Linked DNA regions of Homo sapiens: regions 2, 3, 4, 5, 6 and 7 are each linked to region 1. Evidence: fine-mapped expression QTL. A gene starts in region 1. Each other region holds a variant in brackets. All regions are shown on one strand. Distances are from middle to middle.

Region 1 (4,063 bases):
CAGATAAACCAATATATGTGCAGAGCACAAGTTCCTTCTCATAAGGTCATTCAAGTCTGGCACCACGTGGTGGTGGGGGGTGGGCCAGCTCACTGGGCACATGGTACCCATAAATATGCCTACCCTGGGGGAATGGAAGGTTGACAGGGAGCCTGATGGACATGTGTGTGAAGAACGGAACAACACAATAACAAACATGCGAAGCGTACTCATAGCCCTTCCTCCTTCCCATCCCATTCCTATAAAAGAGGAAAGAACAACTCATTTCCTTCACGGGGCATGGTGGTATGCATCTGTAGTCCCACCTACTCAGGAAGCTGAGGCTAGAGGATTCCTTGATCCCAGGAGGTCAAGGATGGAGTAAGCTATGATCCTGCCACTGCACTCCAGCCTCGGTGACAGACAAGACTTTAAAAAAAAAAAAAAGTAAAGGAAAAGAAAAGGAAAGGGATATTTCCCTGCCAAATTAATTTAAACCAAGTGCTCTATTTCCATTCATTAGTTTTTTCCCTGCTGCCTGATGTATCTTTCTCATATCTGGCCCCCTGTTCTGTCTACCTGTTGAAATATTTCCCATTCTTCGTGGCCCAACTTGAGTAACACCTCTGTCAGAACTTATCAGATCAACACAGTCAAATGAATCCTCTCCCTCCCCTGAACTCTATGGCACTTGGCTTGAAGAGCTCTTACAGAAATCTTGAGTTGTGTTTTACTTATTCATGTGCATGGCATATCTACTCTATGAGATTGGAATCAACTTGATTATAGAAATGATAACTTATTATCTATGCTAGATGTGGCTTGCATAGATTCTGTACATTACTTTGCACCTAGTGAGTGGTGATTATTGTAGACATGAATGAATGATTCAATCGGTGCTGATTAATGTCTCTGAGCTTTTGCTCATGCTGTCTTCCCTTTATGGAAAACCCTTCCCACACCAAGGGTCACTTCCTGTAAGAAGCCTCCCTGGATCTCCAAGCTGCTGGCTCCTATAGCACTCTGGGCAAACCTCTGCCTGATTACTCACCACCACTATCATACGTCAAAGTTAATCATGACCAATTTCACCCACTTATTTATAAGCTTCAAAAAGCCTAACATTCCATTCTAGTCATGCTTCTCTTACCACCATCTAGCACAGTGTTTGGTAATAGTGTGCATTTTATAACTGTTTGTCAAATAGAATGATCTATTCAGAAGCTTCTGGAAGCGTTAGCCCTTGCCACAGAGGACCTCGTTTATTTAGTGTTTCTATCAGGAACTGCCACAGTTGTCTTGAGGTCTCACTCCCAGAGGAAACCCAGCATGAACAGCCTTCCCATCCCAAGTTTCGTCACGGATGAAGGAAGGAGCAGGACCAGACGCTCTTTAGGGTCCCTTAGAGCCCCAGGATTCTTGTGTTCCAGGGAATCCCCTGGCAGAATAGATTGCTGCGAGCAAAAGAGGCGAGTGTGGCCCCTCCTCAGCAGGTCTCTAGATGAACCCCAGCCTCTGGAAGGCCTGGACCTGGGAAAAAAGAATTCGCGTCCCTTCAGGGCCCCACGCCTTCCTGTCCTCCAGCACATTTCTCTTTCTTGGCCCCACCTTCCCTTTTTCTGCTTCCTCTCTGCTGGCCTCTCCCCTTCTCTTCCTTTCTTTTCTGTTTCTCTTCTCCTACAGGTCCCACCGCACCTTCCCAGTATCGCTGCTTCCCCTTCGCCTACTTCCCAGTCTGGCCAGTCAGATTCACCGTCCTTCTCGGGTCGCCTGCGTTATCTTGCTTTCCTCCCACGCCCCGACAGAGGCTCCCTCTCGCTGGCCTCCTCCCTCTCCTCTCTGCCCTGCAGGCAGCAGAGCCTTCGCTGACGCCAAGAGGCAGCGAGGTGGGGAGGCGAGGAGTTGGGGAGGTCTGGAGGTAGGGGGTGGGGTGGGGGTGGGGCCTTGCGCAGCCGCCCCGCCCCGCGATGCGTGTGTGAAGGTCGGGGTGGCAGTGACGCGGCGCCGGCGGGGGGAGGGAGGCTGGGCCGGTGGGAGAGGGAGGCGAGCCGACCGCTGGGCTGCTGGGCTCCCGCGCCCTCGCGCTCCCCGCCGCCAGCCCAGGCGCAGGCAGGGCGCAGGCGGCGGCGGGCGGCATGGAGAGCCTGCTGGAGAATCCGGTGCGCGCCGTGCTCTACCTCAAGGAGCTCACGGCCATCGTGCAGAACCAGCAGAGCCTCATCCACACCCAGCGAGAGCGTATCGACGAGCTGGAGCGGCGGCTGGACGAGCTGAGCGCTGAGAACCGCAGCCTGTGGGAGCACCAGCAGCTGCTGCAAGCCCAGCCTCCGCCCGGGCTCGTCCCCCCGTCATCGGCCCCGCTGCCGGCCGCTCCGGCCACCGCTCCTGCCGCCGCCGCCAGGGCCCAGGAACCTCTCCAGGACCAGGGACAGCGCTCAGCAGCCGCGCCGCATCCCGCGCCCGATCGGCCGCCGCGTCAGCACCACGGACAGCTCCTGGAGCAGCCCCAGCGGGGCCCTGGCAGCAGGGCTCACACACCCCAGTCGCCCCACAAGCATCTGGGGACACAAGGGGCCGTGACTGACAAGGAGAAGGAGCGTCCCCCGAGTTGCTGCGCTGCTGCCGGAGCCCTCCTTCAGCACAAATCCCCCTCCGCCCTCGGCAAGGGCGTCCTGAGCAGGAGACCTGAGTGAGCGGGGAGAGGAGATGGGCACTGTTGTGGTGGGAGCAAGGGAAGCAAGTGGGTGTGAGGGAGAGACGGGGACGTTGGGTGCGTAGGAGTCTAAAGGACCGGAGTGATGTGGCCTGAAGGCGCCAGAAGTGTGCAAAGGAGATTTTGGGTAAATGAGGGAACGATATCCCTGCTTGAGAAGGTTTTGGGGAATGCTGGAGCAAAAAGGAGTAACCAGACCATTAGTAGGAGCAAAGGAGGAAGGAGGTGGGTGTTAAGCGATTGGTGATACTGGGAACTGACAGCATTTAAACGGGGTTAGGCTGGGTTGAAGTTCGAGTGAAGATTAAACTGTAGAAAAGAGAACCATTGAAGGAATCTTTTTAAGTGAGAAAAAATTTGGAAGGAAGTTTGGGTAGTAAAAGTATTTGCATGGAGACTGAGATGTGAGAAAAGCTGAAGGCTTGGAAAGAGGCATGTGAAGAGCTTTAAAAAGGCTGGGGCCCAGGAAGAGTAGGACTGGGGTAGAGGGGAATCCAGGAGGCCGGGGACAAACCTGAAAAGCAGGAGTGATGTGGGAAACCAAGGGAGCTGGAGGCAGAGGAAGAGAAAATGTGGCTCTTTAGCTGGTGAAGTGGGAGCCACAGCTAGGAGTGGCTCATTTAGGGAAGCTTTCTCTTCTCTGACCTGATTGGACACCCTTCCTCTGAATTCCCGCAGAGCCGAAGAGGTGCAAGGGAACATCCCATCAAACCAATGGAGGACTCAGGCATGGCTTGAGGACTCAGTCTGGTTACAGCTTTTTCCTCCAACTCAAGGAGGGTTTTTCATACAGGGTGTTTGGCCGTTGTTGAAAGGGAGCAATGACATGGGGGACAGTTGGCAGATGGAGTTGGTATTCAGATGCCATGCCTGTTTAAATCTCCCTGTTAAGGCCAGCAACTGCAAACCCTTTTTTCCCGGTTATCTGGTGATCACTGAAATCTTGCCTTGGGTCCTGAGAGAAATGTTAACCTCTCAGTTCCTAGAACTTCAAGCTCTTTCTTCACTCAGGAGGTCCATGAACTAGGAATATGGGAAGAAGATATGAAAGTGTCTGGGATGTTCTCTCCTCTGTACTGGAAAGGCTGTGGCCATGTCTGCTTCTTTTCTCTGATTAGGCAAGTGATGGAGAACTAAACAAAGAACAGTTCAAGGGAAATTGTCCCTGGTCAGCACCTGACCTTGACAATGGTGATGCATAAGGGAATGGGGAGGGGGAAGTAGAGCTGAGAATCTCATCTTCATCCAGGTGCATTAAGTCTGGGAGATACTTGTGAATATTTGCTGTATTCCTTCAAAACTCATTTTCTTTTACCATCTGTGGTAGAGTTAGAGAAGTTGGGTTAGGGCAGGGTAGCTCACAGAGCACGT
Region 2 (4,063 bases), 68 kb after region 1:
CAAGTTTCCCAGGCTGGGTGCTTGTCAGGCCAATAAGGAAGTCAACAAGAGCTGGTTTGGGTGAGGTAGGGAAAACAGTGGCATAGCCTAGATGGACAGAGGATACACAGGCTGCTGGAAATGTGGGTCTAGGATCAAGGCTAGGTATGGAGGCTTGAGAGTCATTCCCATCATTGTCACTGTCACCATTAAGCAGCTACCACTTATGAAGCTCCTGCTCTCTGCTGGGTGCTCCATGAAATAATTTAATCCTCACAAGAAGATACAGGGTCAGCAGGATAAACCCCACTTAATAGATATGAAAACTGAGAGTCAAAGATGTTAAATTCATCCAAGTCCAATCAGCTGGGATCTGGGGCTGGCCATTCCCCTTACTTGCCACTTGCTCACTGGCCCATCAAAGTAGAAGTTAAGAGAGTGGACTGGGTCCTCAGAGGGAAGGCAGACAGGGCTGAGAAGGTATCCACCTGGGGAGCACGTTTACAGTGACCTGGAAGGCTCTGACTGACACAGCTCCCTTCTTAATTCATTGTTAATTATCACCCATCACGGGCTCCTCTGATGATGTCCAACACAGAAGCCGTGGATGATGTCCAGAGTGTACGGGGAAAATTAAAACGTGTGGAGACTGGCAGTGGCACCCATGTGACTCGTAATCAGCACACGTAGGGGTTTTGTGGCCAGAATACAGGATTAAGGGGTTGTAGGGAGACAGGACAACCAGGATAGACTGAGTCATGAGCACTGGGGAGAGTTGCAGAAAGGAGCCAGGAGGGAGGCTGAGGAGGCCCCTGGGGCTGAGTGACAAGCCCCAGATCTGCCTCTTCCTTGCTGGTTGGCCTTGGATGAGTTTAACATCTCTCGCCCTTGACTGAGATGGGAGGCAGCAGGACCCAGAGCACAGGGCTCAGGGCAGGGTTGGGTCAGCATCTGGCCTTTGCTCCTGGAGTGAGGCACAGGTTAGTGTTCTGGAGGTTCAGTGTAAAATAGGAAGAAAGGGAACAGGCTAGGGCAGGGTTGGGTCAGTATCTGGCATTTGCTCCTGGAGTGAGGCAGAGGTTAGTGTTCTGGAGGTTCAGTGTAAAATAGGAAGAAAGGGAACAGGCTAGGGCAGGGTTGGGTCAGCATCTGGCATTTGCTCCTGGAGTGAGGCAGAGGTTAGTGTTCTGGAGGTTCAGTGTGAAATAGGAAGAAAGGGAACAGGCTAGGGCAGGGTTGGGTCAGTATCTGGCATTTGCTCCTGGAGTGAGGCAGAGGTTATTGTTCTGGAGGTTCAGTGTAAAATAGGAAGAAAGGGAACAGGCTAGTGCCCCAGCGGCAGCGGAGTCAGCAGTTACGCTGTAGCCTGGGGAGATCTGTGGCCAGGTGCAAAGCTGCAGATAGGACGAAGGAAATGGGAGTAAAAAGAGCATGTGTAGGGTGAGCTGAACACACAAAGGAGGCAGGAGCGGGAGAGCGTCTGCTGAGTCAGATTAGGAAGGTTTTTGAGAGTCACAAATATAACTTTGGAATTAATTTGTCGAATACACACTCATTGAAGGCCCACTATGTGCTGGGCACTGTCCAAGCATTGGAGGAGATAGCAGTGGCCACGGCAGGTGAAATCTGCCCTCGTGGGACTTGATGTCTAGTAGAGGATGTGATGGGACAGATGCAAGAATTTAAAATCTGGTTTTCTTTCCTGCTTGGGTGAAGCATAGACATTGCCCAGTAGTACACGGAGTCTCCTAGGGTTATGTCAGCTGGTCTTCTGCCTTCAAGCAGGATGATACCATGCCAAGGGCATGGACCCCATCACCATTTTGGAAGCATCTCAAGCAATGGATTTCATACCTTCCCTGTGTTGCCAACAGCATCTCGTGCTGCAAAAGGATGCTCTTGGGCCTGGGGTTTTCCTAGAAGTATAAATAGGCCAGACGGGAAAGAAATGTGAAATCTGGCCGGGCGCAGTGGCCCACGCCTGTAATCCCAGCACTTTGGGAGGCCAAGGTGGGCGGATCACCGAGGTGCCAGGAGTTCAGGTCCAGCCTGGCCAACATAGCAAAACTCTGTCTCTACTAAAAAAAATACAAAAGTTAGCCAGGCACAGTGGCACATGCCTGTAATCCCAGCACTTTGGGAGGCCAAGGTGGGGTATAAATAGGCCAGACGGGAAAGAAATGTGAAATCTGGCCGGGCACGGTGGCTCACGCCTGTAATCCCAGCACTCTGGGAGGCCAAGGTGGGCGGATCACCAAGGCACCAGGAGTTCAAGTCCAGCCTGGCAAACATGGCAAAACCCTGTCTCTACT[T/A]AAAAAAATACAAAAATTAGCCAGGCACAGTGGCGCACACCTGTAATCCCAGCTACTCAGGAGGCTGAGGCAGGAGAATCGCTTGAACCCAGGAGGCGGAGGTTATGGTGAGCCGAGATCGTGCCACTGCACTCCAGCCTGGGTGACAGAGCGGGACTCCATCTCAAAGAAAAAAAAAAGAAATGTGAAATCTGTCAGTTTCTCATGGTGCTTGAATAGGGCTGACAGACAGAAATTGAGAGAAAAGGAGACATTTTAGTGATCAGTTCCCCTTCCTCTCTACATTTCCCCTTGGGGAAGGACTTTCCTGCCTGAGCCAAAGCCAAGTCCCTATTCCAGGCCTCAGGGAATGTGTCAAAGTTCAGCAGGGAGAATGAGCCAAGCTACATTATTTCCACAGGAGCAGGAACAGAATGCCTCAGAGGCAAGTATCTGTGTCTCTTATGGGTGCATGAGGTCATACCTAGTAAAGATCAAGTGGGGAAGTGTCCAGTTCGTACCGTGGGCAAAATTCTCAGATGGCCCCCAAGTCCCCTTCATGCTAGTGTACACATCCTATATAATCCCCTTCCCTTGAGTATGGGCAGGATGAGTGAATGTGATGGGACATCACTCCAATGATTAGGTTACCAATTGGTTGATTTTGAGTTAATAAAAAGAAACATCACCCAGGGTGGGTCTGAGCTAATCAGGTCAGCCCTATAAATGAAGCTGAAGCCCCAGACAGACACTGTGCCGTTAGCCTTGAAGGACCAAGCTATCAGGTTATGAAGCAGGCCACATGGTAGGGGACAGCAGGCAACCTCTAGTGACTGAGGGCCTAAGTCCTGTGATTACAAGGAATTGAATTGTGCCAACAAGAGCGAGCTCAAAGGAGGACCCCACACCTTAGATGATATTGCAGCCCTGACTGATATCTTGGTTTCAGCCTGGTGAGATCCCGAGCAGATAACCCAGATGAGCTGTGCCCAGACTAGATTCACAGAGCTGCATGAGAAATAAACAGGTGCTACTTTAAGTGGCTGGATTTGTGGTCATGTGTTACACAGCAATAGATGAGGAATACACTTGGTGTGGTTTAGAGCACCTTGAAGACCCCTCCAATAGGGGGATTGTGATAGCACTGGGAGCTTCCTCCTGCTCAGGGCCTTGTCCCTCATGAAATGCAAGTAACTTTGGGAGAAGCCATATAGGAAGGCTTAGTTGCCATTTACACATTAATCTGCGTGAGTTCCAACGATCTCCAAGGGTAGAGTTGGATGTTGGGGGAGACAGAATGATGTCCCCAGGTTTGGGAATGGGGAATGGGAATGGCCAGGCTGGAAGCACTGGAGGCAAGCACTAAGGATGTCTCATTTTATCTGGGATTGTCCTTGGGGATTGGGGTTGAATCCACAAGGTGTCCTGAGCTAAGAGGCTACCTCTGCTAGCGTGGAATGGGGCACCCATCACACCCTGCAGGGAGGGAGCAGAGGGCACGGCTGGGCTGTGGGAGGCAGGCATTCATTCTGGCTGCAGCCTTTGGGGGCTCCAGTGGAGCAGGAAGCAGGTTGAAGTGTTGTGCTGAGGGATGAAGTATGGCCTTTCTATCTGTACCCTCGCCATCCATGATCCCTGGAGAACAATCTGTACCCTCCCCACCCATGATCCCTGGAGAACACGGGACGTCCCTGTTCTTGCCTTGAGTCGTTCATCTCAGCGCACCCATCCCGATTCTTCGTTCATTCGGGAAGGACACCACGTGTAAGTGGCATGTCTGGTTGTGAATAGGA
Region 3 (4,063 bases), 74 kb after region 1:
AAGGACGCCCTGCAGGCCATGATCCTGAGCCTGCCGCGCTACCACTGCGAGAACCCAGCCAGCTGCAAGTCGCCCACGCTCTCCACCGACACCCTGCGCAAGCGGCTCTACCGCATCGGCCTCAACCTCTTCAACATGTAAGTCAGCCCCGGCCCCCAGCCCGGAGTCCTGGGCGTCCTGGGAGGGAGGGAAGGAGGAGGGCACCTTCCCTCCACCAAGCAGGGCGCCAGGTAACTTCCCACGTCATGCCAGGGTCCTCCAGGCAGGCGCATCTGTGCCGTGCCTGATCCCTGAGGTCATGTTTAGGAAGTACATATTTTATTTTAATCATCCTGAGTTTATTTTAAGAAAGATTAAAGGAAAAAAATAACACATCAGACACATGCTTTCACAACTGTTACAGCTTAAGATGAAGCTAGGGTTTGAAAAGTAAGAGAATGTAAAAGAAAAGACAGTATTAAGTAAATAACAGTCCAGGCCGTTTGAGGATTACGCAGCAATCATTCGGGTGGATATGAAGCCAGGGAAAACGCATTAGCTCCCAGGGTTGGTGAAATGCGAGGCTGGGTGGGGGAGGGAGGAGAGGCGCCTCGTAAAGAATGCCGGCTGAGAGCAGGAGAGGGGAGGGCTACGAGGAAGAGAGAGTGTGAAGCAGGCAGAGGCACAGGAGAAAGAGAACAGGGGAGAAATGACCGACCGCCATAGCTCAGAGACCCCAGCGAGACCGGGACTGGTCCTGCACCGAATGTATACAGCCAGTCCCAAGCAGAGGAAAGGAAGCACACCTGCCCCTCCCATGGAAATGTCAGGTCCAGGAGGCAGGCACTCGCCTCCATCCTCCACTCGCCCCTTCATAACCCTGCGCCAAGAGCACATCTCCCCGGCCCTAATGCGTGTTCATTCGTTCATTCGGCTGTTATTTATTGGGTGCCAGGCACTGTGACCACAGAGGTGAGAAGGACACATCCCCTGGCCTCAAGAGGCTCCTATTCTAGGGGAAGTAGCTACTGTTCATAGCTCACCTTACATAAAGCATCTGTAATCTTCCAGCAGTATCTACACAGAGGTATTACCATGCTGTTTTACAGAAAAGAAGCCGGCTCACACCAGTAAGGCGAAATGCACACGATGAAATAGCTAGTACTCGGCAGACCTAGGGAAAGGCGGATCTGACTCTGAACCACTCCCACTTCTGCAGTGTCTCTTCTGCATGCACATGAAAACTCATACAGACACTCATCTGCCCCAAGACAGGAATTCTTAAACTATCCATAGTGAAGAACCAGTTTTGTTCCCCCACACCCTTCTGAAAATACATTGTGGGCTAATACTTTTGTAAAATACAATAAAAATGAGGTGCTAGAAAGACAATCACATGCCTGGCTGTCCCGGAAAATGTCGAAATGCTATGGGAGGTTCTCAGTGCTTACCTTGTGTTTCTGTACTTATCTCCTCCCGGACCTGTGAGGAACAGCTCAGGGAGCAGCATGGCTTCAAAGCTTGCAAAGGGAAGAGGTGGTGTGGCGGAGGTCTCACCTCTGTTTCTCCCACCCTCTCT[C/G]CAGGGTTGGGGCGTCTGCGGTGGGGACCTGCATATTGACAACAGGATATGGGTAGGGGGAAGGGCAGGACTGGGGTAAGACCCAGGAGGCAGGGACAGAGAAGGGTACTTCTCCTCCATCTGCTCTGGAATTCACTTTGTTTGCAGATCTCCCCTGTCCTCCTTCTGGTCACACACCATCCTCTGCGTGAGGACATTCAGTGGGTTGAGGCTCTGGTGAGAGAAGCTTCAATGGGGAACTGGATTTCCAAGAACCTCTGGGTACTTCTATGGGTGGAAGACAGGGAGGAAAGAGTCATGGATGGCTTCAGCTCACTCTCTACTGCTTCTCCCCACCCCCACCTCCAGAAACCCCGACAAGGGCATCCAGTTCCTGATCTCACGCGGCTTCATCCCGGACACCCCCATCGGTGTGGCCCATTTCCTCCTCCAGCGAAAGGGCCTCAGCCGCCAGATGATTGGAGAGTTCCTGGGCAACAGCAAGAAGCAGTTCAACCGCGACGTGCTGGAGTGAGTACCCCACACTCCGGGCTTTCCCCACTCCTTCCCACACCCCACCTGCCCGGGCTCTCTCTGTGAGCTCCTTGGTGAAATCCTCGCTCCAGTTCTAACAGCTTCCAGCTTCCAGATTGTCCACAGGAACCAGAATCCCCTCTTTAGCCCATCACCCCAGTGGGCCGGAGCCCTGTCTCCCGTCAGAGTCATTGATTGAGTTCGCCCCAGGCCAGGCTTCGTTTGAGGCAGCAGGGATACAGAAATGGTCCAAAGAGACAAAAAGCCCTTTCTGCCTGTCACTCTCCAGGGCAAGAGAAACCAGGAAAAGGAAAGGGCTTGTGTCAGCACTGGGGTTCATCTCTGCCTGGTGAAGAGCCCCTCAGCCCCCCTCCCCCAGGACCCTCCCATTCTCCAAGGTTCATTTTCATATCGCTGGAGGCAAAAATGTGAGACAGAAAAAAGAAGGGGTTAAACTGAGGGTTTTAGAGCAAGAAAATACTACAATTCCATAAAGATAAATCTACCAACAAAATCATGACCAAAGAAAAATTGTTTCTTTAAAACCAAAGAAAATGGTTTTAAAGTCCAGTAGCAGGGTGGGGACCCCCAGGGGGCTGCCTTTGCCCCCGCTCAGCCTTGATAGTGTGGACAGGCAAGAGTCTCTTCACACTCATGCCTTGTCCAGAATGGCAGGGCGGGGCTGGCGCTCCTCTGAGGCTGAGGGGCCTTGCAGCTACTCCTTCCCTGGGACATCGGCTTCAGCCCCTGCCATGCCCCCGTGCTCTTTCTGGCTTCCACTGGTCCCCGAGGTTGGCCTCCTTCTTGAAGGTCTCCATTCTTCAGGGACCCTCCCTCATTTCTCTCCCCTCTTTCTCCTTGGGGACAGTCAGCAGAAGTGTCTCCCCGGAGGCCCTGGGAAGAGCTCTCCCTTTCATCCTCGCTCCTGGAGCAGCAAGGGACTGCCAGAGAGGGTTTGGACGCTGGGGGAGTCATCCACCCAGTGGTCAGCTTCCCTGGAGTGGGAGCTTGGATATTTCACTTCTATTTATGGAGCTGTCTTGGTGCTGTGTGCCCATATTGAGAAGCCCCTGTCCTCTGGGCCTGCGTTTCCATGCCTGCAGAGTGGTGCTGGGTTGTGAGGGCTGGACCCATTGCCCTCTGAAATCCCTGTCACATTTCTAAATCCACTGACGCGGTGGTTTTCTGACTGAGTTCAATGAGTGAGGGCTGGGGTTCGCACAGGTACCTTGAAATCCCTGCACAGCCCTCAGCTGGGCAGAACTGAGTTCCTGTCCCTGACTCTTGGTGGCTTTTGACAATTTATCATCCCTCCTGGAGCTGCTGGTGGAGACGCTCTGTGGACCTCAAAGAGGAAAGAGAGACAATGCTAGGCAGCGCCTCCCTCTCACCTCCTTTCTCTTCTCCCTCCGGCTTCCCTTCCCTTCCCCAGCACTGCTGTGGGGGCCCATGGAGGTGCTACTGGGATCCAGGATACATCTAGGTTGCAGAAGGGGAGAGATGGCATTTCCTCACGCCCTTCCTTTTCTGTGTCCCCTAGTTGGCTCATCTCTCTGGCTTTCCTGCACTGTTGTCCCAGTCCATCCCTTCCCAAGCCAGGGTGAGGTGCTGGCCCCGTAGCCCCAGGCACCCCTGCTGTCTCTCTGCTCTGGGGGCAGGAGTGACTCTGCTTCACCCACAGGCCCTGACTGTTGTCTGTTTTCTTCTGTCTTTCCCAGTCTCCATGTGGCCTGCGCCCTAAATTCTAACCTGCAAGGCCCACATTGATCTGGAGTGCTGGGAACACAGCGTTTTCCTGCAGCCCAGGTGGTGCTGAGTCGCACAATGGAAACTAATTGCCCTCTTCCCTGGGAGGCTGCGTGTATGGGCTGTGGGCTGGAGGCTTGGAGCAGTGGCTGCAAGCCTGTGCTGAGGAGGGGAGCTGGGCTGGGGGCTGGGGGCTGGGCTAACCTTAGGTAGGGATCAGGCTTGGGATGGGTAGGGGCCAGACTC
Region 4 (4,063 bases), 60 kb after region 1:
AGCCTGTGCCCAAGGAGCCGGGCCACCGATACTTACAATAGGTAACACATGTAGCAGTCACCATGACTCAGGCACAGCTTAAAGAGTTGTAAGTAACTTCAGCCGCCAGTATCCCTGTGAGGTAGGTACTGTTACTGTGCCCATTTTATAGATGGAGAAACAGAGGTGCAATGAGGCTGAGTGACCTGCTCAGGGTCACACAGCTCGTAAGAGGCAGAGCCCAGATGCACCGCTCTGCCATACTGCTTCTAAGCAGAGGCTCCTGAGCCCTGGCCATAGCTGCCCCTTCCCTCTGTCTGAGCTGCCTCCCCAGGTGCGGGTTCTTCTCCGTGCCCAGGGCTCATCCCTGCCATGGTAGCCCCTCCCTAGAGGAGACTGTGAAAGACACCCCCTCCAGTCCTTGCCACAGGAAAGGCAGGCCAGAGTGCCTAGCTTCTCTCCCCGACCCCCACATCCACACGCACCCTGTCGCCCTCTCCCCCAACCGAGCACCGTTGCCTTCTGTTCACAGTGATGGCTCCTGCACCCAGGCCGGTGGGGGCATGGAGGACTCCGTGGTGGCAGCGGCGGCGGTGGCAGCCGGCAGACCCAGTGCCCATGCCCCGAAGGCTCAAGCCCAGGAGCTGCAGGAGGAGGAGGAGCGGCCGGGGGCAGGGGCTGCCTCCCCAAGGGCTGGCCCCCAGCACAAGGCCTCCCCCGGCCGGCAGCAGCCTGCCCTGGCGACGGCGCTGTGCCCCCACGCCCCTGCCGCCTCCGATTACGAACTCTCCCTTGACCTAAAGAATAAACAGGTACCCAGGGCCTCCTAGGGGGGCGGGGAGGGTGGTGAAGGGGCCCTGCTTTGGGGGCTGTCGAGGGTACCAGGGATATCCCCGCTGGGTCCCCTCCGCTACAGGCACACCTCTTTTGCCACAGTTCTCCTGCATTGAGCGACCTAGTTTGCCCTTCCCTGGACCAGCCACAGGCCTCTGCCTTCTACCATGGCAGGGCTCATACCCTCGCAATGCCAGGCCCTTGGGCAGCACGTCCAGGGGCTCTGCTCCTCACACAGTGCTCAGCAAGCCTCCACCGCCCCACTGACCACTAGGCAAGGAGCCCACTGTTCTCTGGGGTGTCCCCACCTCCATCTGCTGCTTAGAGGCCATAGTCCAGCTTCCACGCCCACCAAGGGAGCCGGTGTTAGGCACCCACAGGCACAAACGAGGCACAAAGACAATGGTCTCCTCGAAGCAGACAGGATTCCCAAGATCAGTCCAGACTGGGGGAGTCCAAAGCTCCTCTATTGGAGAACAGATTCCATGGAGGGGCCTGGGCCTCCATTTTCCATTCAGGAAGAGAAAGTGGCCAATTGTGGGGCCCCCATTGAACCCCCAAAAAAGATAATGCCTCAGTTTGTCTTGGCAGACAAGAGTCTTGATGGAAGGTGTGTGTGTGTGTGTGTGTGTGTGTGTGCGCTTAGAGAAAGGTGTGATGGTGTGATACTGTTAAGGAAAGAGCTTTGAACTTGGAGATGTAGACATGGGATCCAGTCCTCGCTCTTCCTCCTATGAACTCAGTGACTTTGGGAGTTGCCAGTTAAACCCTCTGGGCATTCGTTTCCTCATCTGCAAAAAAATGAGAATTAACTTTGAATCACCTCCAAGGTCCCTTCTGCCCCAAAATGTGTAGGTTCTAGAGAACAATTCTTCAACCCAATAGGCAAGGTATCTTCAGAAAGGAAGCTAGTGGGAAGGCCACTAAGACTGAGTCAAGCCAAACTAACCTCCTTCCTCTCTTGGCATTGATGCCAAGCTCATATCCTGGCTCAGGCCAGCTGTAGGCAGCACATCAGTAAAGTGTTTGACCAAATCCCCCAAGATACCCTATGTGCACATGCCAGGAATGTGTGGATTACTAACAATATAGTAAGGAGGGTTGTTCTCAAACCGAATTATCCAAAAAATATTCATCAAAAAAAATCCCAGGGAGTTGAGTGGACATGCTGTCCAGGTCACTGATAAGGCACCAATTTGAGGCATACAAGTTACATTCACCTGGCTTTCTGATGACATAAAGCTGAAAGAGAACAGCTGATACCTTGGTGATAGCATCCCAGACTTTGTAAAAACCTCATCAGGGGCCAGG[C/T]GTGGTGGCTCATACCTGTAATCCCAGCACTTTGGGAGGCCAAGGCGGGTGGATCACGAGGCCAGGAGTTTGAGACCAGCCCGCCCAATATGGTGAAACCCTGTCTGTACTAAAAATACAAAAATTAGCCAGGCGTGGTGGCGCATGCCTGTAATCCCAGCTACTCAGGAGGCTGAGGCAGAATTCCTTGAATGCGGGAGGCGGAGGTTGCAGTGAGCCAAGATTGCACCACAGCACTCCAGCCTGGGCGACAGAGTGAGACTCTGTCTCAAAACAAAACAAAACAAAACAAAAAACACCTCATCAGGACAGAAGGATGGTTTTAATGAAAAAAAAAAAGTCGGATGAAATGTGGAAAAATCTAAAATTCTGCTCCCAGCTTCGAAAACCCCACAGCACTAGCATAAGACATTCAGGCCCTTCGCCCACTTTTTGAGAAGTGTCTGTTCATGTCCTTTGCCCACTTTTTGATGGGGTTGTTTGTTTTTTTCTTGTAAATTTGTTTGAGTTCATTGTAGATTCTGGATATTAGCCCTTTGTCAGATGAGTAGGTTGCGAAAATTTTCTCCCATTTTGTAGGTTGCCTGTTCACTCTGATGGTAGTTTCTTTTGCTGTGCAGGAGCTCTTTAGTTTAATTAGATCCCATTTGTCAACTTTGGCTTTTGTTGAACATGGCACACATCTATAGGAGACTGAACTCGACTCCTCTCTCTTCTGCCATGAGCTGTATGGCCTTGGGCAAGTTGCTTGACTTCTCTGGCCTCAGCTGCCTCCTATGTCTGGGACTTCACAGGCTCTTCCCTTGGCCTCAATCTCTGAAGTTTCCGCTCCCCTCCACACCCCTGCACTTGGCCTTCTCTTGCTTTAGTACTTGCTTTAGGTACCTCTTCCTCCTCTCAGGCAGTTTTCCCTGCCTCCCAAGCCTGCACTGGGTGTCCCTCTCAGTCATCCCACAGGGCCCGGGTGTCCCCGTCACAGCCCTTCAGCCCTGTGTCAGCATTTCCTGTTTGCTTGACCCCCTCCTTGAAGGCAGGTGCATGACTTGTTCCTCATTATATTCTCAGTGCTTAATGCAGTGCCTGGCGAAGAAGCTGCTGGAAGGATAAGAGACGGGAAATGATCACTTAGTGACATAAAGGGGGATGGGATGGGTATACAGCATGGCGCCAGGAACTGACTCTGCCTTAGGTCTCTTTGAGATCTAACACTTGATATTCCAACCCAGTGATTCCGCCAGCCACACTGAATCCCGTGTTCCATGGCCTGGGAGGGGTGTTGGACAATCTTAGCTCCCCAGCCCACCGACCCGCCAAGCCTCCTCTGTCAGCCAGTCCAGATCCCCAGGACGGTTTTCCTTGGCTGTTCTCCTTCCTTCGCCTCTGCTCTAGCCCCAAGCCCCACTGATGCTGCCTCTTAACAGTTCCCGAATCCCACCCTCTCTTGCCTTCCCCAGTGCCCCTGCCCCAGGAGGCCAGGCCATCCTTCCTCTTGCCTGCACGCCGGGAGACCTCCTGTGCTTCCCCTTCTTTGAGCTCTGTCCCTTCCAACCTCACCTCCACATTGCAGCTGAATCATCTTCCTAAAGTGCACCTCTGACCGCGCTGATCCTCGGGAAAGCCTCTGATGGCTCCTCACGGTGTGCAGGACAGAGGCCTCTCCAGGCTCCCTGCCACAGTCCCAGCCCCATGGGGGTTCCAGCCGTTCCTATTTGCTGTCCCGAATCTCAAGCCACCCTCACCTCTGGGCTTTTGTGTGGCTTTGTTTCCTCTCCTGGGGATTCTCCTCACCTGTCCCCGACCCCATCTGCTGCATCTGGAAGACTTCTGCTCATACTTCAGGTCGCAGCCGAGGCACGTGCTTTTACCCATTGCCTGTTGCCTCCTCTGTGCTGTCTGGGAGTGGGAGCTGTTCCGCTCAACAGCATGGACCATGTTGTTC
Region 5 (4,063 bases), 100 kb after region 1:
GAGAAACAACTCTCAGTTGAGTAGAAATATTTAGCATTGATCGATGGGATGGTGTGATTTAGGCAACCAGGACAAATTGTTCTGGTTTGGGGGCCTACGGTTCAGTGTCCCTGGTTTCTAGACAACCAGAGAGACTGAAAATGGAGCCCAGGAGAGTAGCTTTAATAAAAGGAACTTGAGTTATGTCTCCTGGAAAAGAGAAGCGGGAGGAGTGATTTAATAATCATGTCAAATCTCCAAGGATGGCAGCCGGCAGTTCTGTAGCTCCACTGAGAGAAGAACAAGAAGGAACAGGTTTCCAATCCAGTGAGAGGAATTAAAGTTGAGTACCTAGACAGATGTCCTAGCACTGCAGGCTTGTAGCTTCCACACCCTCGGTGTGGACTTTCCTCCTTGGGAGAGATTTGAACACCTTGCGGAGGCTCAGCTGGCCAGGCAGGCTCTGTCCTCCCAGGCAGGCTCCGTCCTCCCAGGCGCCGGGTGGAGAGGTGGGTGTCACCCCTGTCAGCAGGCTCTGCTGTGCCAAGTGCGTTTCACACAATGTAACAAAACTGATACAGGTTGGTGCTAAAGTAATTGCGGTTTTTGCCATTACTTTCGCACAAACCTTAATACTTAAGGAGTACAGGTCACTAGCCAGGCCTTGTGCTTTATGTGTATCTCCCACGCAGTCCTCTTAATGACACCGTGAAGTGGGCCTGGCTGTCCTCTCGAGTGAGGCATGGAGAGGTTGGGTAACTTGCCTAAAACCACACAGCCAGGGAGTGTCAGGACCAGGACCCAAACCCAGGCAGTTCACCTCCCTCACATCGGCCTCTTCTGTGCCTCTCTGACGTTCAAGCAGATAGGATCATCCCCATGTACAGATGACGAAACTGCGGCTCCGAGGGGGTATTTAACTTGCTATTCAGTGGTGGGGCCAGACCCGAGGTCCGTGTTTCACAGCATGTACTGGGACCTCTCCTCCTCTTCCTCCCCTTTCTGCTGGCCCCTCATTTCCTGCCTCGCCTCTGTGTGGTTGAGGTTAAGGTTTCTCTTGCTCACGGGCCTCTGCATTCCTTAGGGGAGCTGGAGAAGCAGCAGGGAACAAAGACACTCTCCTTCAAGCCCTGCGGAGCCCAGGGGGACCCACAGTCAAAGCAAGGATCGCCGACAGGTGAGCCTCGGCTCCGCTCAGGGCACCAGTCCCCATGGAGGCCACTCGGGGACCCTGGGTGTGGGTCCTGGGCAATCTGCAGGGAGAGGTGCCCATTCCCGTGGCGTGTTTCTTCCTGCTGAGGAGCGCCAGGCTTGCCTTCTTTAATCTCATGAGCTTTAGTGGTGGGAGTGAGGAGGAAGGCGAGAGAGAAATGTGTCTGTCCATTTTGCAAACTGCACCAGAGGTCTGGAGTCCGTGTGAGATGTCACTGTCTGCCCTGGAGGAGTCAGGCAAGAGTCCTGGCATCCTGGCCCCTGCAGGGAGGCCTTCCCTCCTGCAGCCAGGCTGTCTGGACGAGGCGAGGTCAAGAGAAGCCCCACGAGGAACACTCTCCAACCAGGCAGTGTAAGAGGGCAGGGTGACCAGAAGGATCTGGATCTTGCTCTTCTCTGTACAGTCCCTTCTCTAATGAGCCACAAGCACTTCCTGACCCCTGGCTCAGGTCAGCCCACCCCAAATCCAGAGAGACCCTCAAACTCCACTTCTCTAGTGGTTTCTCCAGTGGAATTGCTCACTCCAGCCGAGTCACACTGGCTCCAGAGCTGGCCCCTCCTTTGGCCTGCCCCAACCTTACCCCACCTGCAGGGGGCCAGGAAAGGTTTCCACCACCTCCCTCCACCAGCCCCAAATAAAGAGCATGAGGGGAGATGCATGAGAATTCAGTCTCATCCCAGTGAAATCCCAGCAAGCCATTCACAACTGTCCACCCATTAGTTAACTCGGTCACTTACTCTCACACTCAACAAACACTTCTCGAATGGCTGCTGCCCTGTGCAGAACACTGGAAAGCCAGGGTCATAGTGAGACGCCAGCTTGAGCTGAGAAGCT[C/G]CAGTGGGCCCCGTGTGGTCCATGACCCGCCACAGTCGGCCCTGAGTCCTGACTTGGAACAGGCAGCAGCGTGGGGACTAGTTACGGCAGCGAGGACATGAGATTCACTTTCCAAGCAGGACATGGGGCTCTTTTCGCTATGTGGAGATTCTGTGATGGAATCTTTCCTGTATGGGTTTGACCTGCCATCGTGCGTCCGTAATTCTCCACGCTGCCTGATCTCCACTGGCCTCTTCATTTCTATAAGGTCATAGGGCACGGGTTGCTGCTTTTGTTTTCTCAGCTGTGGAACCCCAGAGCCAGCCCTCAGCTGTGTGTCATTCCCTGCCATTCCTTCCTGCCTCTCTTTTGGAAGCTGCCCGCCCTGGTTAGGCCCAGATGCCTGTCCCCAGGGACGTGTCCCTTAGTCCCCTCCACAGCGGGGTCTTTCTCATTCCCAAACAATGGTGCAGCTCCCTCTCCTGCTGCAGGAAGCAGAGGGCTGAGCACAGCAGGGGGAAGCTGGCACCCCCAGGGGTTGGGAAATGAGAGGGGCTCCTGCGGGGGTCGGGGTGGAAGCTGGGAGTGACTCAGCCACAAAGAGCCAATGAGCTGTCCGTGGGGGTCCGCAGGGCCCCTGCTGCTGTGCCAGGCCGGCCAGAAGGCCCTCAGAGTAATTACAGAGCAGTTATCGGCTCTCACCGTGCCCGGCACTGCGGTGAGTGCTGTGCAGGCCTCAGCCCATTCAGTCCTGCCCCCTCAGCCAGTCTGCAGGGCTGGAGCAAAGAAGCGTGGCCCACGCTCAAGGAGCCTGTGATCCACGGAGGCTGATGAACGTGGCGCCCACAACCCAGGCCCCCTCCAAGCCTTTTACAGTTCGTACTGGGAAGGCTTTGACTGTGGGTAAATCAGATTCCACAATGCCAACATCAGAAAGAGCGGCAGCGATCTTCTAGTCTGCGGCAGCCCAGAGAGATGTAGCATCTCGCCCAGGTCACATAGCTCCTAAGTGGCAGAGTGGGGCTCCCAACCTCCGCCTCAGTGAGGAGCAGTGTGACCCCAAGTCTTAGCTGCAGAGATGCTTGAGGGGCACAGGGGAGGGGCAGGGGCTTGGCTCAGCCGGTGGAGAATGAGCCCTGTGCTCTTTGCATTCAAAGCCAAAAGGGAAGCCGCGCTCAGGGAGAGGCCGGCGGAGAGCACGGTGGAGGTAAGTGGAGCCCTGGTTGCCCAGGTGAGTGACTACCCTGCCCCCTTGTTCTTCTTCTCACCGTCTCTGTTGTTTCTCTTCTCAGGTATTAATCAATGCCTCCCCAGCCCGACTCACCATTTTACCAATTTCAAGAGATACAATTAAAAGTTACTGCTAGCATGGGTAATGCCACTGTTCCAGCGCCTAATTAAGCCACGAGCTCTTTCTCCCCTTTCCCCAGCCTGCTGCCCTCCGAGGCCGAGCTCCCAGACTAACACAGTGGAGACGGAGCTCACGGCACCCTAGGGCCATCCTTCCTGTGTGCCCCCAAATCCACCTCCCCAGCAAATGCTCACTGCTCACTGCTCCCCCAGTACTTGCTGTATCAGAAGACCCCACATCCCGTTCCCCAAGTCCTCCCACCATCCATAGCGGGGAGCCTGGGCTCCCTCGGAGAATTACCCCTTAGGCCCCAAACGATCACTTCTGGGGCAGACCCTGCCCTCTTGGACACCTGGGGCTAGGTTGGAGAATTGAGACTTGGGGGCAGGTGGGAGGGGGAACTCCTCCCCGGAACAACTGGTCCATCTGGAAAGCTGGCCATGGCGCAGGGATGTGTGTGCAAAAGAAAATGAGACAGAGTAGGGTGGGGCTGTCCTGAGGGCTGTCCTGGGGGAAGTGATAAGCTGAAGACTGTCTGTGGTGGAGGGGAGGCTGCCCATTTGGCTCCATGCCATACAGTGAGGGACTGCAGAAGACCCAGCAGCAGCTGGTCCCTGCCAAACCCCCCCAGTGCCACCTATGGGAGGAGTGTGCAGGTGCCCCTACAAGCCTCGTGAGCCCCACCCCTCTCCCACTGGGTCCTCTTG
Region 6 (4,063 bases), 96 kb after region 1:
GTTCTCTGTCTTTGTGGGTGTATGCTTTTCTAAAAGATTCCTTTCTCCCGAGTATTCAGAAGCAGCAGAGGCATGCAGCCTGCCACCTTGAACTGGGGGCATCCATACACTCAGCCTTTCTCCTTGGTTTTTCTCACCCGCCGCCTGATTTCTTTCAGCCTCCTTGGCTGCTGCATGGCTCATTTGCCTGACTTCGAGAACCAAGATCAGACGTGGAAGAGACCAGAGCAGGCCGGGAGCTGCGTGTGGAAGGCGGGGTGTCCTTTCAGTAGCTGGGAACACTCCTTTGAGAGATGCTTGCCAAAGTTGTTTTATTTTTAATTTTTCCCTCTTATAAAAGAAGCGTATAGTCATTAAAGAAAGATTTGGAAATAGTAGAAAGAAGATATTTTAATCGCCTGTTTCTCCAAAAGAAACGTGTTTTCTTGTTGGCATATTTCCTGCCAGTGTTTTTTTGTTGCCCGAGTTTTATCATTACTATGAAGCAGGAGGTGGGACAGGGGTGTCCTCGCCTGCATTGCCAGGGGTCTGCCTGCTCCCCCACTGCTCCCAGTGAGGGAGGAATCTCTTCAAAGACTAAGCCCTCAATGCCATGCTCCCTACTGGAGGGGAGAGGAGAGCCCAGCAGGAGGAAGATCCAAAAGAGAACGAAACAGAAGCTCCTTATGATGCTGGAGTGGTGGGGTGGAGCTGGGGGGTGAGACGAACACAAGGAAGACGACAGAACTGCAGAGGCGCACAGGGTTAGCAGGAACATGGAGGCTGTATCTGCCATCAGGAAAGAGGCCTGGGAGGTGGGCGTGAAGACTCTGGTTGGGGAACATCAGGAGGTGAGGCAGGAGATGTGTGTTGGGGCCATATCATTAGTTTTGGTGCCTGGCTAAGGAACTTGTTCTTAATTGAATGGGTATGAGGCACCAGCCATTGAAGGCATGGCAAGAACCAAGGCCACCCCCCGGGAGCTCCAGGCTGGATGGGGGTCTCTTCTGTCTGGCTCCAGGGCTCTGACACCCTCCCTCCCAACCCCACCACCACCCCTGCCCACTCCACGTTGTTAGGTGTGGACGATGGCGCTGACATCCCCAGGGAGCTGGTGGTAGGCATCTATGAGAGGATACAGCAGAAGGAGCTCAAGTCCAATGAGGACCACGTCACGTACGTCACCAAGGTGGAGAAGTCCATTGTGGGCATGAAGACAGTGAGTGTCCACAAGCTACCTATCTCCCGTCTCCTTTCCTTTCTTTCTTCCTGGCATCTCTTCCCATTCTCCTTCTTACCTTTCCAAAACTCTTTTTTCATATTCATTCACATGATAGTTATGAAGTACCTACTGTGTGCCAGACACTGCATCTCTTTTTTTTTTTCTTGCCTGATTTCCTCATTGCCTCTTGCCACCCGATACTGCAGCAGGAGAGACGGAGATGAGATGTCAGGAAGGACTGCCCAGTGGTCTAGGGTGGAAGCATCTGGGTGGCCAGATGAGATTTAGTATCCCTTTCCTAGGACAGCATGACTACCAGGCATTCCTGGATGGTCCTGATGAGTGGAAGGCAGGAAATGGGCTCAATAGGCTCCAGGCTGTGGCATCACCATAGATTTGTCCTATTGGTAGTGACCTGTGTCCCAGGCAGCATGTTCCAAGCCTGCCATGATTTTTAAAGTGGGACTTCTCTGTAGGCTACTACACTTTATACTATAAAGGATGTCATGGGGGTTCCAGTTCCTCCTCCTCATATTCTTGCCTCAGGGGACGGTGTGGGAGAGTTTGGAGA[T/C]CTCTTCTGAGGCCCTGCACTGGGCTCCCTCCTCCCAGTCTGTGCAGGGACAGGCTTTTCTGCTTTGAGAGCCTTTATTGCTGAGGTCTCAGCATCTGTCGGGTTGCAAGCGACTGGTTTGTCTTACACGCTGGAGTAGATGCCAGGTGTCTCTGTGATCCCTTCGCTCTCGCACACCTGCATCTCTGCAGTATAGAAAGGGTGGAGGTGTCATATCTGCAGGCCGCAGCCTGGGGCAGGGGATGCCCTCAAGGTTACGGAGGGAAGCAGGTTGACAGTGGCTGGACTGGAACAGCCTGCAAGCTCTTCTCAATTTCCTATTCCTGTCCCTCTATCCCCTCATTTACTGTGGCTCAGTGGGCCCCTTCTCTGGCCGTGCTCCCCAAGAAGCATGACAGGGATGAGCCCTGGGACAGGGGGTGAACGTGCGAGGGAAAGAGCCTCAGACGAGGAGAGAGAAGGATGAGAGTCAAGTCCAGGCCCCAGGACAGAACCGGAGCCCCTCCCCTCCCTCTCCACAAAACCGAACCCCTCCCCTCTCCTCCCTCCACAGAACCGGAGCCCTCCCCTCCCCCTCCACAGAACCGGACCCCTCCCCTCCCCTCCCTCCACAGAACCGGACCCCTCCCCTCCCCTCCCTCCACAGAACCGGACCCCTCCCCTCCCCTCCCTCCACAGAACCGGACCCCTCCCCTCTCCTCCCTCCACAGAACCGGACCCCTCCCCTCTCCTCCCTCCACAGAACCGGGCCCCTCCCCTCTCCCGGGCTGTCTCCTCTTCTGGAAAATGGGCGCGTGGGTGGGGAGGCCTCCAGGCCTCTGGTCTCTCCCGCTGAGCGCCCTGCCCGCGTGCAGGTGCTGTCCGTGCCCCACCGCCGCCTGGTGTGCTGCAGCCGGCTCTTCGAGGTGACGGATGTGAACAAGCTGCAGAAGCAGGCAGCGCATCAGAGGGAGGTGTTCCTCTTCAATGACCTGCTGGTGGTGAGTGGCCTCCGCTCCGGGACTGGGCTGGGCTGGGGCTGCCTCTGCCGCCCTGGTCAGCCTGGGCAGGGTCCCTGAAGTGGGCAGGAAAGGACGCCCAGAGCTTTCAGACAGAATGCCTGTTCCGTGGGACGGATCTGCCTTCATGGTGCTTTCACACCGTGGGCGTGAGGGGGCTCAGGCAGACATGCTAATTCCTACCTCATAAGTCATGACACCGAGACGTCAGATGATCTGCTCGTGGTTGCACAAACTGTTAACGAACTAGTTCCCAGACCACTGGCCTCTCCACGTTACAGGAAGCCCAGGACAGGGAGTGCACAGGGCTGTGCCTCAGACCCCAGGGCCTGGGAGGAGCAGGGCCTAGGCGGAGCATGCTCTGTCCCTGGGCCTAGGCGAGGCTGGTGTGTGTGTGTGCGTGCACACACATACACACATCTGTACCCACAGATACTTTTTTTGCTCTTTGAAAAGAAGTATCCATTCAACAAATATTTGATCAGCGTTGACCATGTGCCAGGCATCATTGTAGGTCTGGAAAACTGGTGAGCAGGACTGGAGCAGGGCTTGTGTCTCCCTCGCACCGGCCCTCTCTATCCATGAGCCACGTTGGCACTGCCTCCAAAGTGATCACAAGCCTGAACCACCTCTCACCACCTCCACTACTACAGTCTTAGTGCACGCCTGGTACATTCAGTGAACCACATCAGCCTCCACACGGCTCTCCCCACCCCCCTGAGAGCAGCAGCGTGATCTCTCTGGAGTGCACATCAGGCCACGTGTCCCCTTTCCCTAACCTGCCTCCCCGCCCTCTCCTCAGCCCTGGGAGGCGCCTCCCTCCTGTGGGCCAGGCCTTTGTACTTGCTGCTCCTTCTTGCAAAGCTCCTCCAGACCTTGCACTCTCCTCTTGCCTTCCTGGCCTCCTCCTTTTCATTCAAGTCTCAAATCACTTTTGATTCCTTACCCTGTTTCATTTTCTTCAAAACACGTAGCACTTTGGTTTTGTTTTTTTGCTGTTATGCTTTATTGTTTGATCACCTGATGGACACTGTGACACTCCACATTCCATAAGCACCTTAAGGGCAGGGGCTCTGTCCTGAGTTCTCCTGTATCTCCAGGGCTCAGCTCACAGAAGCTGCTGAATAGAAATTTGTTTATTAAGCAACCAGATGACTTTACTAAAACGAGCTTTCATTTTAGTAGGGGAGGGAGATAGAAAATAATTAAGAAACAGACAAACAAGATAATATCAGATTGGGGGAAGGCACTATGAAGGCCACAAACCAGGTGATAGTACAGAGAGTGACTGGA
Region 7 (4,063 bases), 81 kb after region 1:
GGCTGGAAGCCTCTCCCTCTCGGTTTTCACATGGCTGGGGAATTTGGCTCTGCTCTATTTCCTTTCTGAAATGTTCGCTTCAGCAGGTTTAAAGTCCAGCGGATGGGGAACGTTCCATGCTGGCTGTGAGCGGCCTCTTTCTGGCCTGGATGATTTTTTCTGGTGTGAATCCCATGCACGTGGAGAGCATTGGTGTCTACCATCTCCATGAAATGCAGGAAGGCAGCTTCTGGGTTGAGCTGCCGGAAGAAAGCTTCCTGGGTGTTCCTTCCCTCCACTGCGTCTGCTCCATCCTTTGTTAAATTCCAAGACATATCAGGGTTTGACGTTTGGGTCAGATTTCATTATTTTATTTCCATGGAAATATGTTGGCCAGAGTATAACAGATTTGTTCTTCTTAGAGGACGTTTAGAAATGAAGACAGATTGTCTGTCAAATTCAACAGTCTGGAAGGCTCTGGCCTTTCATTGCTAGGAAGAAATCATTTGAGAATGTCCTGCCCACATTGCTGTGTATAATCTCAGTTACCTTATTCCTGAGGAATTCCCATGAGGAAGGGGAGAGCAGGCTGGGGCCCAGGCAGACCTTATGTGTCCGGAGGAGATAAAAAGAGGCCCAGGCAGGGATTGTGGCTCACACCTGTGGTCGCAGCACTTTGGGAGGCCAAGGCATCAGAATCACTTGAACCTAGGAGGTTAGGGCTACTGTGAGCTCTTACGGCACCACTGCACTCCAGCCTGGGCAAAAGAGACCTCATCTCTACAAAAAAATTTTTTTTAAGTAGCCAGGTGTGGTGGCGGGCACCTGTGGTCCCAGCTACTCGGGAGGCCAAGGCAGGGGAATCACTTGAGCCCAGGAGATGGAAACTGCAGTGAGTTGTGACCGTGCCACTGCACTCTAGCCTGGAAGCCTGGACAACAGAGTGGGAGCCTGTCTCAAAAAAGAAGAAAGAAAGAGAGAAAGAGAGAGAGAGAGGAGAGTGGGAGGAAGGGAGGGAGGGAGGGAGGAGGAAGAAAGAGAGAGATAGATAGAGAGAGACAGAGACCCAGTGCAGGCAGGCAGGAATAGAAGAGTTAGGGTCATTTCCACTGCTTTGGAAACGGTACACTGCCAGCACCAGAAGGCTGGAAGGAGAACATCTTCAAAAGTGGTGTCTTTGGGGTTATGGCCTTGACCCTTCACCTCTCCACTCTCTCCTGCCCCACTCCCACCACAGATAGACAAGGGATTCTCCTGAACAGTCAACAGTTGTGAGAGTTTAAGACCTACTTACTTCTGTAGCTGGAGACCTTGGGACCTTCAGTCCAGGATTGAGACTCCCTTTGGCTTCGTCACTTTGGCATATAAATTGGACTTTTATATAAAAATGGACCTACCTGCCACCCAGTCCTCCCCTGACTACTCAGGCCTTTGCTCTGGAGGAGTCAGTCTCCTCTGTGTGATAGCTGTGGCTGCAACAGGCCACTCGGACGTGGGCCTTCTAGAAGGGTCTTCCGGGGTGTCACTGTCTCCAGGGCAGGGCTGTCATATCTCCAGGAGGGCCGTTTGTGACCAAGCAGGCCGTGAAATATTATGCCAGCTCACACAGATCAGCATGTGCTGTGTGCCACAGGTGCTGTTCTGAGAGGCTTACATGCAAAACCTCGTTCCATCTTCACAGCGACTCCGGGAGGGACGTGCTGCTAATCTGTACCCAATGAAGGCACTGAGGAACAGAGAGGTTGGGGAGCTTGCCCACAGTCACAGAGCTGATCAGTGGCTGAGGTCTGAAGCCAGGCACAATGACTCATCACCTGAGCCCTTAACCCTGCACCATCCAGCCTCCGTGCGTCATTCCAGGACCCCTGTGGTCCGGTTGCTCTCACAGTCCTTGTCAGTCCCCCATCATGAATCATGACACTGAAGACCCCTTAGACAATCAGCTGGTCCAGCCCTCTCATTTTACCCTGGCAGAAACTGAGGCCCTGGGGAAAAGAAATGACTAGTCTCCTGGCCAGCGGCAGAGAAATTGAACAAAATCAGGTACTCTCCCACCTCTTACCTTGGCGTTATTTGCTATGCCCCGATCCTCTCAATTTGGGAAGAAAGCACAGCTGAGAAACTGATTCGTAAGTCTCAAGAGGTCTGAGCCAGATTTAGCTTCCTCTCTCTGGTGCATGTATATCTTAAAGGGCCGA[C/T]GGATGGCTGTCTAATGATACAATTCCAGGCAGAATTAGTCGGTGGGGCAGGGAGGGGTCCTGTCCACTGACAGGCGGGTCAGCCCACACCTAATGAAAATGATCATGTATTAAGCCCTGTTGTATACCAGGAACTTCACACCCACTGCCTCCTTTAACACTCATAACACCCCTGCCCAGTAGATGTTCTCAGTGTTGTCTCCATTCTCAAGGTGAGGAAATGAGCCACCAAGAGGCTCCATGACTTGAAGTAACAGCTCCACGGCCTTTTCTTAATCCACCCACTGTTATTGGCATAGAGCAGTGCTTCCAAAAGGTGGTCCCTGGACCAGCAGCGTCAGCTTCACCTGGAAGCTTGTTAGCAATGCAAACTCTCAGTTCCCGCTCCAGGCCCACTGAATCAGACTCTGCGGCTCGGGGCCCAGCAATCCGTGCACTAATAAACCCGCCACGCAATTCCAATGCATCACTCAGTTTGAGACCCACCAGCAAACAGGGATGCTGCCGAGCCCAGCAAAAGAAAAATCAGCTCAGGGCTTCTAAATTGTAAGGGTAGTTTGAACTTAGTTCTTTGGGTACCTGAGTCTCAAGGTGTGAGTGGCAGCCAGCCCTACCCAGGCCCCCTCAAAAGAGAGTTTCTTCGTCCTCATGACATCACCAGGAACACTGGCAGATCCTGCATCAGCTTCCTTCTCTTCTATTTTCTTAGCCGCATCGCACTTTGCCAAAACGCCTTGACCTTTGTTGAGCATGTTATGAATTCTGACGAATAAAATAACTCTCTGGAGGATGGGGATATTTTTAATTGAATTGTAGAAGCCAACAACTGCCAAATAAAGCCAGGGTTTCTACATTCCGTGGCAATAGGTGGTTTAGATTTCCTTCCTAATCCTGAAACCTGGGCTTAGTCTCAGCCAGGAGCACGAGCTAGGGCTTCACCTTCCAGATCTTCGCCGTCTCTTCCAGCCAATTAAAAATCCCTGCTGCTACCATTACCTATTTTCAGCTCCCAACCAGTTCCTTTGTCTGCCAGACACTGTCTTGCTATCATTAAAAAAAAAAAAGAAGGTTGAGATGATGAAATTCATTTTGATCACAGGCGTGTAGGACGCTTCATTTCCCTGCAACACAAACTGATTCCACGCACAGATCAATGTTAACAAGCAATTTTATGCAAGATTGTACCTGTTTCTTCAGAGGCAGGGAACATACATCCTTTTTCCCCAACGCTTGTGAGGTATTTGCTGCAGACCTTGCAGAAGCTCACAGGAAAGAGGGGGAGGCCTTAGCAAAACCGGTACCACTCGTGATCCACGCGCCCGTCAGCAGCACCTCCTGAGACAGGTCCGGTCATGCCTGGCTGGAAGCGGTCTAATCGGTGCCCATTGCTCTAGTTCTCAGCACTCACTCACTTGCATGTGCAGTGGGAGGAAGGGGGCCTATGCCCTCCACACTGCCTCACTGCCTGGAGTCTGGAAGCCTCGGGGCCATTTGCAAGTCCATCACAGGTCTCGGTGTCAGCTCCAGATAATCTTGGCAGCAAAGCAGGCTGAGTAATCCTGGGCCGTTGGGTAGAACTTCCAAAGGCACAGGCCACTGAGGCTCCTTCTCCAGCTGCCGGCATGCAGTCATTCCTGGTCATCTCTCACTCACTCATTCATTCATCCCACAAAACAGTGATTGGGTGCCCATACACCAGGGAGGCAGAGATTAAAATAACTGCCCTATCTTGAAGGAGCCCGTAGCCTCGTGGGGAAGACAGGCAGGCAAATGTTATGACACAGGGAGATAAACGCAATGGTCGACAGAAGGTGGGTTCCGGGGACAACGGAGGTCAGGGAAGACTCCTAGAGAGGATGAGAGCTAAACAGAGACCTGCAGGGTTG

The links.
Region 2: its variant is fine-mapped to the expression of IQSEC3 in subcutaneous fat (GTEx, PIP above 0.99).
Region 3: its variant is fine-mapped to the expression of IQSEC3 in whole blood (TOPMed, PIP above 0.99). The same link has a PIP of 0.9 or more in T cells.
Region 4: its variant is fine-mapped to the expression of IQSEC3 in whole blood (TOPMed, PIP above 0.99).
Region 5: its variant is fine-mapped to the expression of IQSEC3 in lung (TOPMed, PIP 0.98).
Region 6: its variant is fine-mapped to the expression of IQSEC3 in testis (GTEx, PIP above 0.99).
Region 7: its variant is fine-mapped to the expression of IQSEC3 in lung (TOPMed, PIP above 0.99).

The regions. Positions count from the first base shown.
Region 1 is chr12:64,769-68,831 of GRCh38, forward strand. It overlaps IQSEC3 (IQ motif and Sec7 domain ArfGEF 3), which reads left to right and starts at 1,999. Exons shown (of 14, transcript NM_001170738.2): 1 at 1,999-2,668. The coding sequence starts at 2,115.
Region 2 is chr12:132,674-136,736 of GRCh38, forward strand. The region is part of intron 3 of IQSEC3 (IQ motif and Sec7 domain ArfGEF 3); the gene reads left to right. Among named protein-coding and RNA genes, the nearest start is that of IQSEC3-AS3, 14 kb to the right of the region's middle. The variant T/A (reference allele first, on the strand shown) is at 2,292.
Region 3 is chr12:139,218-143,280 of GRCh38, forward strand. IQSEC3 (IQ motif and Sec7 domain ArfGEF 3) reads left to right here. Exons shown (of 14, transcript NM_001170738.2): 4 at 1-137; 5 at 1,907-2,068. It overlaps IQSEC3-AS3 (IQSEC3 antisense RNA 3), which reads right to left. Exons shown (of 10, transcript NR_033859.2): 3 at 4,022-4,063; 4 at 2,117-3,416; 5 at 1,695-2,027; 6 at 1,431-1,586; 7 at 1,023-1,153. Among named protein-coding and RNA genes, the nearest start is that of IQSEC3-AS3, 7.9 kb to the right of the region's middle. The variant C/G (reference allele first, on the strand shown) is at 1,559.
Region 4 is chr12:125,122-129,184 of GRCh38, forward strand. It overlaps IQSEC3 (IQ motif and Sec7 domain ArfGEF 3), which reads left to right. Exons shown (of 14, transcript NM_001170738.2): 3 at 512-791. Among named protein-coding and RNA genes, the nearest start is that of IQSEC3-AS2, 15 kb to the left of the region's middle. The variant C/T (reference allele first, on the strand shown) is at 2,125.
Region 5 is chr12:167,950-172,012 of GRCh38, forward strand. It overlaps IQSEC3 (IQ motif and Sec7 domain ArfGEF 3), which reads left to right. Exons shown (of 14, transcript NM_001170738.2): 12 at 1,064-1,156; 13 at 3,163-3,212. All of the region lies in intron 1 of IQSEC3-AS1 (IQSEC3 antisense RNA 1), which reads right to left. Among named protein-coding and RNA genes, the nearest start is that of IQSEC3-AS1, 12 kb to the right of the region's middle. RefSeq lists a silencer at 389-862. The variant C/G (reference allele first, on the strand shown) is at 2,027.
Region 6 is chr12:160,868-164,930 of GRCh38, forward strand. IQSEC3 (IQ motif and Sec7 domain ArfGEF 3) reads left to right here. Exons shown (of 14, transcript NM_001170738.2): 8 at 1,059-1,198; 9 at 2,627-2,752. IQSEC3-AS1 (IQSEC3 antisense RNA 1) reads right to left here. Exons shown (of 3, transcript NR_183431.1): 3 at 3,753-3,890. Among named protein-coding and RNA genes, the nearest start is that of IQSEC3-AS3, 14 kb to the left of the region's middle. The variant T/C (reference allele first, on the strand shown) is at 1,773.
Region 7 is chr12:145,717-149,779 of GRCh38, forward strand. The region is part of intron 5 of IQSEC3 (IQ motif and Sec7 domain ArfGEF 3); the gene reads left to right. IQSEC3-AS3 (IQSEC3 antisense RNA 3) reads right to left here and starts at 3,453. Exons shown (of 10, transcript NR_033859.2): 1 at 3,363-3,453. RefSeq lists an enhancer at 1-450. The variant C/T (reference allele first, on the strand shown) is at 2,178.